2 linked regions of the Homo sapiens genome follow. The protein of the gene in region 1 purifies or fractionates together with the protein of each later gene. This does not show direct contact. Each region holds a gene or a part of one and is shown in the gene's direction. Other genes may lie near its edges.

What was found.
Region 2: the proteins of TULP2 (region 1) and WDR19 purify together in Homo sapiens (co-immunoprecipitation; 3 studies listed by BioGRID and IntAct, with this or other methods). This does not show direct contact.

The regions. Positions count from the first base shown.
Region 1 is NC_000019.10:48,888,744-48,895,782, reverse strand, and holds part of TULP2 (tubby-related protein 2), read left to right. Parts: intron 1-279; coding exon 280-417; intron 418-620; coding exon 621-785; intron 786-6,151; coding exon 6,152-6,273; intron 6,274-7,039.
Region 2 is NC_000004.12:39,227,529-39,234,567, forward strand, and holds part of WDR19 (WD repeat-containing protein 19), read left to right. Parts: intron 1-681; coding exon 682-829; intron 830-957; coding exon 958-1,162; intron 1,163-4,268; coding exon 4,269-4,428; intron 4,429-4,633; coding exon 4,634-4,744; coding exon of another isoform or gene 4,745-4,777; exon of another isoform or gene 4,778-4,780; intron 4,781-7,039. UniProt on the Homo sapiens protein: As component of the IFT complex A (IFT-A), a complex required for retrograde ciliary transport and entry into cilia of G protein-coupled receptors (GPCRs), it is involved in cilia function and/or assembly.

The DNA.
Region 1 (7,039 bases):
CTCAGCCTCCCGAGTAGCTGTGATTACAGGCATGCGCCACCAAGCCCGGCTAATTTTGTGTTTTTAGTAGAGACGGTGTTTCTCCATGTTGGTCAGGCTGGTCTCGAACTCCCGACCTCAGGTGATCCGCCTGCCTCGGCCTCCCAAAGTGCTGGGATTACAGGCGTGAGCCACGGCGCCTGGCGGGGGTGATATTTGGGAGCCCAGTGACGGGGTGGATTTTGGTTGAGGACCGGAATTTGTAGATCGTTTTCATGGGCTCGCTGAACCTTCTCCCAGGCCTTGGGAACCCTTTCCTCCGGAAGAAAGTGTCAGAGGCACATCTGCCCTCTGGCATCCACAGTGCCCTGGGCACCGTGAGCTGTGGTGGAGACGGCAGGGGCGAGCGCGGCCTCCCGACACCGCGGACAGAAGCAGGTATTTGCGAGTCCACCGACCTCCTAGACCCCAGAACTCCGTCCCCACTAAAACCCAGGAGTCTGGTGCCTCAATCCATCTGTCCAAAATACTCAGGAGCTCAGGACCGCACCCACTCCTTCCTCACACCAAGGAGTTCAGGTCCTGAGCCGCCTCCTCCTGCAGCATCCAGAAATCCAACTCTCCCCTCCTTCCTTCCTCAGTGTTCAGGAATCTCGGTCTCCAGTCCCCTTTCTTATCCTGGCTCCCAGACAATTCCGATGCAGAATTGGAGGAAGTCTCCGTGGAGAATGGTTCCGTCTCTCCCCCACCTTTTAAACAGTCTCCGAGAATCCGACGCAAGGGTTGGCAAGCCCACCAACGACCTGGTAATTTAGGGGACATTGGGGTGAAACCTGGGATCTCCTGGTTCATGCAGCAAATCTTCCCCTTTCTTAGGCAGCAGCTTCACTGAAGTATAATTCACAAACCATACAAGTCACCCATTTAAAGTTCACAATTCCATGGTTTCCAGTACACGGTCGCCCCTCGGTATCTGCAGGTGATGTGTTCCAGGAACCCCACAGATACCAAGATCCGCAGACGCCAAAGTCCCTTATATAAAATGGTGTAAAATTTGCATATAAACTATGAACATCCCCCCATATACTGTAAGTCATCTCTAGATAACTTATAATACCTAATACAGTATAAATGCAATGTAAATATTTGTTGCTGTTGTTGTTGGGAGGGAGTCTCACTCTGTCGCCTAGGCTGGAGTGCAGTGGCGTGATCTTGGCTCACTGCAACCTCCGCCTCCTAGGTTCAAGCTATTCTCCTGCCTCAGCCTCCCAAGTAGCTGGGACTACAGGTGCGCATCACCACGCCCAGCTAATTTTTGTATTTTTAGTAAAGATGGGGTTTCACCATGCTGGCCGGACTGGTCTTAAACTCCTGACCTCATGATCCACCCACCTCAGCCTCCCAAAGTGCTGGGATTACAGGCATAAACCATCATGCCTGGCCCGTAAATAGCTGTTATATGTTATTTAAAAAAATTTTTAAAAATAAAGTGCCTGTAATTCCAGCACTTTGGGAGGCTGAGGCTGGTTGGTCACTTCAGTCCAGGAATTTGAGACGAGCCTGGCCAACGTGACGAAACCATGTCTCTACTAAAAATACAAAAATTAGCCAGGCAAGGGGGTGCAGGCTTGTAATCCCAGATACTCCGGAGGCCAAGGCAAGAGAGTCACTTGAACCCAGGAGGCCGAGGTTGCAGTGAGCCGAGATCATGCCACTGTACTCCAGCCTGGGTGACAGAGCAATACTCTGTCTCAAAGAAAAAAAAAATTGGTTCTGTTATTTATTGTCATCTTGTTGTTTTTCAATTTCTTTCCTGAATATTTTGGGTCAGCAGTGGGGATGTGGAGCCTGTAGGATACGAGAAGCTAACTATATTTATATAATTCTGCAACCGTCACCACAATCAATTTTAGAACATTTGTATCACCCCAGATAGAGATCCTGCATCATGGCTGGGCGCGGTGGCTCACGCCTGTAATCCCAGCACTTTGGGAGGCAAAGGTGGGTGGATCACCTGAGGTCAGGAGTTCAAGACCAGTCTGGCCAACATGGTGAAACCCAGTCTCTACTAAAAATACAAAAATTAGCTGGGCGTGGTGGCATGCACCTGTAATCCTAGCTGCTGGGGAGGCTGAGGTGGAAGAATTGCTTGAACCCAGGAGACAGAGGTTGCAGTAAACTGAGATCAGGCTACTGCATTCCAGCCAGGGTGAAAGAGCGAGACTTTGTCTCAAGGAAAAAAAAAAGAAAGAAAGAAATAGTGCATCAATTAGCAGTCACCCCTTTTCCATTTACCCCAGCCCTTGGCAACCACCAACCTCCACTGTCTTCTTAGATTTGGCTATTCTGTACATTTCACACAAATGGAATCGTATACATATGTGGTCTTTTGTATGTGGCTTCTTTCTTCAATTCCTTTTTTTTTTTTTTTCTTGAGGCAGAGTCTTGCTCTGTCTCCCAGGCTGGAATGCAATGGCGCGATCTCAGCTCACTGCAACCTCTGCCTTCTGGGTTCAAGCGATTCTCCTGCCTCAGCCTCCCGAGTAGCTGGGGTTACAGGCGCGTGCCACCATGCTCGGCTAATTTTTTGTGTTTTTTAGTAGAGACAGGGTTTCACCATGTTGGCACAGCTGGTCTCAAACTCCTGAACTTGTGATCTGCCTGCCTCGGCCTCCCAAAGTGCTGGGATTACAGGCGTGAGCTAATGCACCTGGCCTCTTTTGCTTTGAGATGGTGTGTCACTATGTTGCCTAGGCTGGTCTTGAACTCCTGGGCTCAAGTGATCCTCTCACCTTGGCTTCCCAAAGTGCTGGGATTACGGGTGTGAGCCACCGTGTGTCTTCATTCACCTCATTCACCTAATGATTTTTTTTTTTTTTGAGACGGAGTCTCACTCTGTCACCTAGGCTGTGTGGGGAAAAGAAAGAGAGATCAGATCGTTACTTTGTCTATGTAGAAAAAGGAAGACATAAGAAACTCCATTTTGATCTGTACTAAGAAAAACTGTTCTGCTGGCTGGGCGCGGTGGCTCACGCCTGTAATCCCAGCACTTTGGGAGGCCGAGGCGGGCGGATCACGAGGTCAGGAGATCGAGACCACAGTGAAACCCCACGTTTACTGAAAATACAAAAAATTAGCCGGTTGCGGTGGTGGGCGCCTGTAGTCCCAGCTATTCGGGAGGCTGAGGCAGTAAAACGGCGTGAACCCGGGAGGCAGAGCTTGCAGTGAGCTGAGATCGCGCCACTGCACTCCAGCCTGGGTGACAGAGCAAGACTCCGTCCCCCCCCCAAAAAAAAAAAGAAAAACTGTTCTGCTTTGAGATGCTGTTAATCTGCAACTCTTGTCCCAACCCTGTGCTCACAGAAACATGTGTTATATTGACTCAAGTTTTAAGGGATTTAGGGCTGGGCAGGATGTGCTTTGGTAAAAATGGTTTTGCAGGCAGTATGCTTTGTGAAAGTCATTGCCATTCTCCATTCTCTATTAACCAGAAACATAACACACTGTGGAAGGCTGCAGGGACCCCTGCCCAAGGAAGCCTGGGCATTGTCCAGGATTTCCCCGACTGAGACAGCCTGAGATATGGCCTCGTGGGAAGGGAAAGACCTGACGGTCCCCCAGCCCGACACCCGTAAAGGGTCTGTGCTGAGGAGGATTAGTGAGAGAGAAAGGCCTCCATGCGGTTAAGATAAGAAGGAGGCATCTGTCTCCTGCACGTCTCTGGAAATGGAATGACTCAGTGTAAAACCGACCATACATTCTATTCTGAGATAGGAGAAAACCACCTTATGGCTGGAGGCGAGACATCATGGCGGCAATACTGCTCTTTACTGCACTGGGATGTTTATGTAAAGTTAAACATAAATCCAGCCTATGTGCACATCCAGGCACAGCACCTTTCCTTAAACTTATTTATGACACAGAGTCTTTTGTTCACATGTTTTCCTGCTGACCCTCTCCCCACCATCACCCTATAGTCACACCAAATTCCCCTCACCAAGATAGTAAAGATAGTGATCAATAAATACTGAGGGAACTCAGAGATCAGCGCTGGTGCGGGTCCTCACTTGCGGAGCACTGGTCCCCTGGGCCCACTTTTCTTCCTCTATACTTTGTCTCTGTGTCTTCTTTCTTCTCTCAGCCGCTCGTCTCCACCTTGCGAGAAATACCCACGGGTGTGGAGGGGCAGGCCCCCTTCAGGCTGGAGCGCAGTGGCACGATCTCGGCTCACTGCAACCTCTGCCTGGCTGGGTTTAAGCGATTCTCCTGCCTCAGCCTCCTGAGTAGCTGGAACTGCAGGTGCACGCTGCCACGCCCTGCTAATTTTTGTATTTTTAGTAGAGACCGGTTTCACTATGTTGGCCAGGCTGATTTTGAACTACTGACCTCGTGATCCGCCCACCTCCGCCTCCCAAAGTGCTGGGATTACAGGCATGAGCCACCGCCCCTGGCCCACCTAACAAATTTTTTTTTTTTTTTTGAGACGGAGTCTCGCCCTGTTGCCCAGGCTGGAGTGCAGTGGCACAATCTCGGCTCACTGCAAGCTCCGCCTCCCGGGTTCACACCATTCTCCTGCCTCAGCCTCCCAAGTAGCTGGGACTACAGGCGCCGGCCACCACACCCGGCTAATTTTTTTTTTTTTTTTGTATTTTTAGTAGAGACGGGGTTTCACCATGTTTGCCAGGATGGTCTCGATCTCCTGACCTCGTGATCCGCCCGCCTCGGCCTCCCAAAGTGCTGGGATTACAGGCGTGAGCCACCGTGCCCGGCCATAAAATTTTAAGGTTCATCCGTGTGGTAGTATTATCAGTACTTCATTCCTTTTTATTCCCTTATAATATTCCATTGTGGTGACGTTTCCTTTTATTTTCATGAGATGGCCAATGATTTCAATGACAGAATTATTATCACCCCAAACTCCATCCCCCCATCTTCAGTCTCTGTGATGCTTTGTCTGAGATAAGGAAAAGGAAAGACCCTAACCCCTCCCTGTCCTTAGATCCAGGGTAATCAGAAACTCTGGCCCTTGTAGACTTCCGTGCACCTGGAGGAGGAGGAGGTTGTTGCAAGTGAGGGCGCTGAGTCATGAGTAGGGACTGAGAACCCAGGAGTTCTGGCCATCTCTGGCTAGCACTGATGATGGTGTCCCACACTCCTGGGATCCAGCTGTCCTGAGCTTAGTCCAGGCTTCTTTCATCCTTTAGGTGAAGGGGTGGGTTGCCCCTCCACACCTGTGGGTTCGTTAGGTGGAACGAGAGACTTGGAAAAGAAAAAGACACAGAGACAAAGTATAGAGAAAGAAATAAGGGGACCCAGGGAACCAGCGTTCAGCATATGGAGGATCCCGCCAGCCTCTGAGTTCCCTTAGTATTTATTGATCATTTGTGGGTGTTTCTCCGAGAGGGGGATGTGTCAGGGTCACAAGACAATAGTGGGGAGAGGGTCAGCAGACAAACACGTGAACAAAGGTCTTTGCATCATAGACAAGGTAAAGAATCAAGTGCTGTGCTTTTAGATATGCATACACATAAACATCTCAATGCTTTACAAAGCAGTATTGCTGCCCGCATGTCCCACCTCCAGCCCGAAGGCGGTTTTTCCCTATCTCAGTAGATGGAACGTACAATCGGGTTTTATACCGAGACATTCCATTGCCCAGGGACGGGCAGGAGACAGATGCCTTCCTCTTGTCTCAACTGCAAGAGGCATGCCTTCCTCTTATACTAATCCTCCTCAGCACAGACCCTTTACGGGTGTCGGGCTGGGGGACGGTCAGGTCTTTCCCTTCCCACGAGGCCATATTTCAGACTATCACATGGGGAGAAATCTTGGACAATACCTGGCTTTCCTAGGCAGAGGTCCCTGCGCCCTTCCGCGGTGTTTGTGTCCCTGGGTACTTGAGATTAGGGAGTGGTGATGACTCTTTAGGAGCATGCTGCCTTCAAGCATCTGTTTAACAAAGCACATCTTGCACCGCCCTTAATCCATTTAACCCTGAGTGGACACAGCACATGTTTCAGAGAGCACGGGGTTGGGGGTAAGGTTATAGATTAACAGCATCCCAAGGCAGAAGAATTTGTCTTAGTACAGAACAAAATGGAGTCTCCTATGTCTACTTCTTTCTACACAGACACAGTAACAATCTGATCTCTCTTGCTTTTCCCCACATTAGGGACCCGTGCAGAGGGTGAGAGTGACTCCCAGGATATGGGAGATGCACACAAGTCACCCAATATGGGACCAAACCCTGGAATGGATGGTGACTGTGTATATGAAAACTTGGCCTTCCAAAAGGTAGGAAAATGCACAATCACTCAGGATATTGGAAGAAGAGGGCTAGCCTCGGACCTCTGGTGAGGGTGGGGCTAAAATTCTGCCACCCAATCAGAAGCTCTTTTTCCTGGTGGTGATTAAGCTGGCAGAGACTTGTGTGTGTGCGTGCGTGCGTGCGTGCGTGCATGTGTGTGTGTGTACCATTCATCAAATCAGAGGATTTGACTTGACATGGACATGGCCATTAAAATACAGCTTATGGTATGGTGGCTCACGCCTGTAATCCCAGCACTTTGGGAGGCTGAGGTGGGCAGATCACTTGAGGTCAGGAGTTCGTGACCAGCCTGGCCAACGTGGTGAAACCCTGTCTCTAGTAAAATACAAAAATTAGCCAGGTGTGGTGGCGCACGCCAGTAATCCCAACTACTCAGGAGGCTGAGGCAGGAGAATCACTTGAACCTGGGAGGCGGAGGTTGCAGTGAGCTGAGATTGCACTCCAGCCCGGGAGACAGAGTGAGACTGTCCAAAAAAAAAAAAAAATAGGTGCAGCCATGGAAAGACAGCGAGCTTCAGAAAGGGCAGAACACTGATCGAAAAGGGCCAGTTGCAGGCCAGGAACGGTGACTCACGCCTGTAATCCCAGCACTTTGGAAGGCCGAGGCAGGCAGATCACCTGAGGTCAGGAGTTCCAGACCAGCTTGGCCAACTTGGTGAAGCCCCGTCTCTACTAAAAATACAAAAATTAGCTGGGCGTGGTGGCGAAAGCCTGTAATCCTAGCTACTTGGG
Region 2 (7,039 bases), on another chromosome or scaffold:
TATGACAACTATTTACATAGCATTTATATTGTATTAGGTATTATAAGTAATCTAGAGATGATTTAAAGTATAAGGGAGGGTGTACATAGTTTATACACATATTACACCATTTTATTCAGGGATTTGGCCATCTGTGGGTTTTGCTATCCGTGGGAGATCCTGGAACCAATCCCTCATGGATGTTGAGGGATGATTGTATATTTATATTTGTTGACATGCATTTTAGAGAAGCTTTTGAAATAAAGTATCCCTAGTGTAATTTACTTCAATCATGTGAGTTAATTTGTTTCTTAATACCCACTATTATCAAATACTCAGTATTATTGAAAAATTTCTAAACACAAGTACAAGTGTGTTCGTAGTTTAAATTTCTGTCATCCTGAGCAGCTTTAATTTTTTTTCCTTAACCTGAAGCTTTGTGTCTAGACTTGTGGGTTCTCCTACAAATTTGCCAGATTTTAGATCAAACCTTGGCTTTTCCAAATAACTATAGTTTTTTCAAGCCAGACCTAGGATAGGAATGGAAAAAGAAACTTTCTTTCCTGTTGTTGTTGGAGTGATGTTAGGTTGAATATGACTCAGTAAGCTAAGCCAGCTAAGGCTGCAAACAGGCTTCTACCACGGCAAATGATAATGATTCAAGTACAGACTTGGGGCAAATCTGTAAATTTTATTTTGTAGGTCAATGACGCTACCTATGAGATTCCAGATTTTTCACCAACCATTAAAGGTGTTCTTTGGGAAAACTGGCCAATGGATAAAGGTGTATTTATTGCTTATGATGATGATAAGGTGTACACTTATGTCTTTCACAAGGACACTATACAAGGTACTAAACCCCTTTTGTGTATATTCGCTGACAGATGAATTTCCCATTGCAGTAAAATTAAAACATTCTTTCTGATGTTTGTGCTGAGTATTAGCTTTCAGCATTGCGATGTCTGTTTTATAATGTAGGAGCCAAGGTTATTTTGGCTGGTAGCACCAAAGTTCCTTTTGCTCATAAACCTTTGCTGCTATATAATGGAGAGCTGACCTGCCAAACACAGAGTGGAAAAGTAAACAACATCTACCTTAGCACCCATGGCTTTCTCAGCAACTTAAAAGATACGGGGCCTGACGAACTGAGACCAATGCTGGCACAGAATTTAATGCTAAAGAGGTAGGCTTTCACACACTTCTTTTGGAACTTCTCATTTGCTTTTGTGATTTTAAAGGTCAAATCCTATAATTATTCTATCTTATTTTATTGCTTTATTCTTTATCCTTGCAAGAATTTTTTTTTTTTTTGTAAATGTAGAAGTACAAGTGCAGTTGTGCTACATGGATATAGTGCATATGGTGAAGTCTGGGCTTTTAATGTACCCATCACCAGAATAGTGAACACTGTACCCAGTGGGTAGTATTTTATCCCTCAACCCTGTCTCACCATCCCGCCTTTTGGAGTTGCCAGTATCTATTATTCCACCTGTATGTCCATGTGTACCCATTGTTTACCTCCCACTTCTAAGTGAGAACATGCAGTTTTTGACTTTGGGGCATTTCACTTAGGATAATGACCTCGAATTCCATCCATATTGCTGCAAAAGACATGATTTCATTTTTTTAATGGCTGAGTAGTATTCCATAGTGTGTATATCTATATATACACACCACTTTTTAAAATCCAGTCATCTGTTGATGGACACTTAAGTTGATTCCATGACTTTGCTATTGTGAATAGTGCTGCAGTAAACATATGAGTGCAGGTGTCTTTTTGATAAAATGTCAAATCCTATTCAATAGATGGAGATAACAGCACTTACCTTGTTCATTTCACAGGGATATTGTGAGGCTCAGATAAGATAGTCAGCTGTTTTTATTATGAGTACTTTATTACAAGAAAAGCCCTTAAGAACAAAACGGTTTCTAAGCTTCCAGAGAGCCTAGTTATTGGGAAATCCTAATAAAATAAACCTAATTATTTCAACAATATCTTGACTTCATCATAGTGAGGTTTGATTTTGCTTTGCTTATAATTTCCTTTTACTGTTTTTTTCTCTTATCTCCTAGAGCCACCGTGAATTCCTTTGACGTTCTAATTCTTCCGAGCCTCTCTTAAATGCTGCTGTTTATTGGGGTCTCATGAGTTTCCTTCTCTTCTTACTCTAATTATTCTTCCTGAGTGAATCTCCTCTGCTTAACATGGCTCAACATACCACCCATATGAAGCTGACTCTAAAATCTGTGTCTTTATCTTAAACCTGTACTTACAACTACCTTCCAGTCATGTGTCCTTGGAAGTCCATGAGCTCTTCAAACTTGCCCTTTCTAAAACTGAACTCATCAATTTCCACAGGCCCCTATTTTCCCTCACTGTAATCACACATGCACATGCCTTAACACACATATACACCAGCTCCTTTCCTCCTCCCGTGTTCCCTCATCTTTACCCAGGCCCTCACCTGGAATAATGTGTAATGTAACTAACCACTTCCTAACTGCTCTGTCTGCCAATAGCCTTGTAACGATCTCATCTGTTCTCCACACACTTTTGAAGATGTGATTTGATCCTCTTATTTCCCTGCTCAGGATCCTTCAGTGACTTTCTATTGCCTTTACAAACAAATCCATTCCTGGGGGACCTCTATGACCTACTAGGCACTTCATGATTTAACACCAGCTCAACTGTCTCCACTCAAGTCCCTCTCTGTTCCACTGGCTGCTGAAATTGCATATATTTCATGATTCTTCCTGGAATGCCCTTTCCCTGCTCTGAATGTAGTAACCCCTCTTTCTTTACCCATCAGCGATAAGTGGAGCCATCTCCTGCTCCAGGAAGCCTTCCCCGACTTCCCCACCACCACAGGCAGTCCTGCTTGGGGTCTTTCTGATGTGTTGCCTCAGAGCCAGGATGCAGTATACACAGTGGTGAAGAGCATGACACCACTTACCTCTGTGTGCCTTGGGCTAGTCTTTTGACGTCTCTAAGCCTCATTTTCCTAATCTATAAAGGAGACATAATAATAATACTTAGTGGGTAGGGTTATTAGGGTAAGAGAATTTATGCAAAAGACTTAGCACAAAGAGTTACCTATTGTAAGTACTCAGTTACCTCTGTCAAACTATGCTATAGTCATTTGTTTCCTTATCTGTCTCTTCCACCTTCCCCAATTGTGACTGCCTTAAGGACAGCAACTGTGGTTGATTTTTGTATCATGTTTCCAAGCATGTAACGAGTTCAGTAAATGTGTGTTGGATGAAAAAATGGATAGGTGAATAGATAAATGGATGAATGAATAGATAGATGGATGTAATATATTCACTCATGTAGAGGTTCCACAAAAAGTTTAATTGGCATTTATGTTCATGTTTTAAACCAGAGGTCGGAAAACCTTTTGTGTTAAGGTCCAAATGGCAAATATTTCAAGCTTTACGGGCCATAGGGTCTCTATCGCAGCTACTCAGTCTGGCTGTTGTAGCAGGAAAGTGGCCACAGACAATCCATTAAAGAGTGGGCTGGGCCGGGGACGGTGGCTCACACCTGTAATCCCAGCACTCTGGGAGGCCGAGGCGGGCGGATCATGAGGTCAGCAGATCAAGACCATCCTGGCTAACACGATGAAACCCTGTCTCTACTAAAAATACAAAAAATTAGCCGGGTGTCATGGCATGCGCCTGTAGTCCCAGCTATTCGGGAGGCTGAAGCAGGAGAATAACTTGAACCCAGGAGGCCGAGGTTGCAGTTAGGTGAGATCACGCCATTGCACTCCACCCACCCTGGGCAACAGAGTGAGACTCCGTCTTCAAAAAAAAAAAAAAAAAAAAAAGAGTGGGCTGATCAGTGACTTTGTTCCACTCAAGCTGTATTTTCAAAACAGCACCTGACTAGATTTGGCCCATAAGCCATAGTTTGCTGACCCCTGTTTTAAACTTCTAAATTTATAGGAATAGAATACTAATTTTATTAGACTTATATGAGAACAAAAATAATATTCATCTATGTGTGAAATAAAAAGAAATAAATGAATAGGATTAGCTTAGTTAATTGAGTAGGCTTATTACAGAGTAGATTCAGATTAATAAAAGAAATTTAGGGAAAAACATTTATCTGTAAAAAAAGGAAGAAAGCTTAAGTGTTTTTTCATTACTTGTAAATGACAATTACAGGTTAAGAAATGTTTTAGACAGTTTATCTGGGGCACGCTATTAGATGACATGTAGTCTGAAAATTGCCTAACATGTGGCAAGTGGAACATTCTGATTAAGCTTATGTTCTTACATCCCAGGTTTTCTGATGCTTGGGAAATGTGCAGGATTCTGAATGATGAGGCTGCCTGGAATGAGTTGGCCAGAGCTTGTCTACATCACATGGAAGTGGAGTTTGCAATCCGTGTTTATCGGAGAATTGGAAATGTTGGCATAGTGATGTCCTTGGAACAAATAAAGGTAAACAGCATGTTATAGAATTATCAAGTTAAAATTTAAATGCTATTTTAAGTTAAATGCAGTCTAAATTTTTTGCATTTAATCTTACCTCTTAAACAAGTGAATCGATAGAACGTTACCACTTCCTACTGATCAAAGTCCTTAAAAAAAAAAAAAAGTTAAACTCTTGCATTTTTTTTCTCATCAGAATTGCTTTTATTTGTAGGGAATAGAGGACTACAATCTTTTGGCAGGACACCTTGCCATGTTTACCAACGATTATAACCTGGCTCAGGACTTGTACCTTGCATCCAGCTGTCCTATTGCTGCCCTGGAGGTATGGCAGCAAGTAAGAATGGAAATTGTGTAAGAGGTATCCAGTGGGGAAATGGGGGAAAAAAAAATGGGGCCGGGTGCAGCCGCTCACGCCTCTAATTCCAGCACTTTGGGAGGCCAAGGTGGATGGATCGCCTGAGGTCAGAAGTCCTAGACCAGCCTGACCAATATGATGAAACCTCATCTCAGCTAAAAATACAAAAATTAGCCGGACGTGGTGGCATGTGCCTGTAATCCCAGCTACTCAGGAGGCTGAGACAGGAGAACTGCTTGAACCTGGGAGGTGGAGGTTGCAGTGAGCCTGTAATCCCAGCTACTGTAATCTCCTGCCCCAGCAGGAGAATTGCTTGAACCTAGGAGGCAGAGATTGCAGTGAGCCAAGATTGTACCACTGCACTCCAGCCTGGGTGACAGAGCGAGACTCCGTCTCAAAAAAAAAAAAAAGGAAAGAACATAAGAATATCAAAGGAGGATCACCCCTTCTATATAATTAAAATTTCTCAGCACAGACACTATATGCCTTCCCCCTCCTAAAATTCAAACATGTCAGTTTAAGAACCCCTGAGTACTCATTAATTATAATGTTAATCATTAAAATTATAATTCAAAAATGTTTATTCTGCATTTTGTGGAGGTATAAAATGCATGGTATTATAACATTACTAATTGAAATCTAAATGTGTCCAAAGAGAACAGATTGTGTAAATTACAAAAACATATACAAGGAAAAATATCACCATATATTGAGTGCTCATGTGGGCCAGGCATTTTTCTAAGCACTTATCATGTATTAATTCATTTAACCCTCCCAACAATCCTATGAGATAGGATTGGTTTTTTCTCTATTTTCCAGATGGGAAAACCGAGGCACATTTATCCTTATTGTGTGAAATTCTGTTGTGTATTAAAAGGTGAGCTAAGGACTAGTGTACCATCACTGGTTTCCCAGAGGTGAGCATTGCAGGAGAGGGCCTAGAGCAGGATGAAGGGCCTGGTTAGTTCAAGGGCAGGGAAGAAGGGAAACCTGGCAATATAGACTAGCAATGAGGGGCATAGACTTCACAGTCAGACATGTCTGGGTTCAAATTCCAGCTCTGTGTAAGCTTGGACATGTTATTTAACCTTTCTGAACCCTAGATCCTATTTCTTTAAAGTAGGAAGAATAATATCTAACCCACGGGATATTTGTAAGGATTTAAAAATGAGAATGAGGTCTTTTAGCACAGTGCCTGATCAATAGTAAAGACACATAATTAGCTATTGTAATCATTAATATTATTTCACCTAAAACTGGCATTTCTACAACTATGTAAAAGAGCTTGTTTTGGGAGCGTTTGTTATTAATTTTACAACTTTCCTTTTACAAATCATTCTATAGCAAATTTTCATTTTTAAATTTTAAGTGAACTAAATTAACTTTGTTATAAGAAAAATTTAGGTAATTTTACAGTATTATTTAAGATAATTGGGACACCCTGAGAAGTTTTCAAAACTTGGATTAGTACTCACTGAAATAGGAATATGGCTGCGATGACTGAGGGGAAATATATCATCTCAACTCTTTTGCATTTAACTGTGGGCACTTGTCATGTGCTGCTAGACTTGGAAAGGATTTGAGGTAATGGATTGATAATGGAGAGGGGTGATTACTCTTTAACCTCACTTTGAAAGCTGATGAGTTAACCAGGTGAAGAGTTCAGAGGCAGAGCCCTACTGCCCAGCTCTGTCATGTACCAGCTGTGTAACCTTATATACAGAGGAGCCTCTGTTTGCCTCAGTTTCTGGATCTCTAAAATGGATACAAGAAAGTATTAATAAATTGCAAAAGGGTAGTTGTGAAAGATAAATAAGCTAATCCCCTAGAACAGTATCTGGCAGATAATAACACTTGAAAAATGTTAGCTATTATTGTTTAGGAAGTATGAATAAAGTGAGGAATGAACTTTAAAAGATTAATGATGAGTTTATATTTAGAATTATGTACCAGGCAGAGAAAAAAGACCACAGGAACATATATTTACATTTTAGTTACATTTGCTATTACTCTTGTGATAGAGCTTCAGATTTTCTAAGAAAAACACACCAATTCCTATAGCAAAGTGTTCTCAACTTTTTAGAATCACTACCTTCTAAAAATAAAAATTAACTTTAATTTAATTGATTACATTAATTTAATTTGATTACTCCTTGCTGAGAAAAATTAAATACTAAGGACTAAGATTTTGTTAGATACGACTGAGTTTTGGAGGGCCACAAACCATTATAATAGCTAAGATTTTTTTGCCCCTCCAAGAAT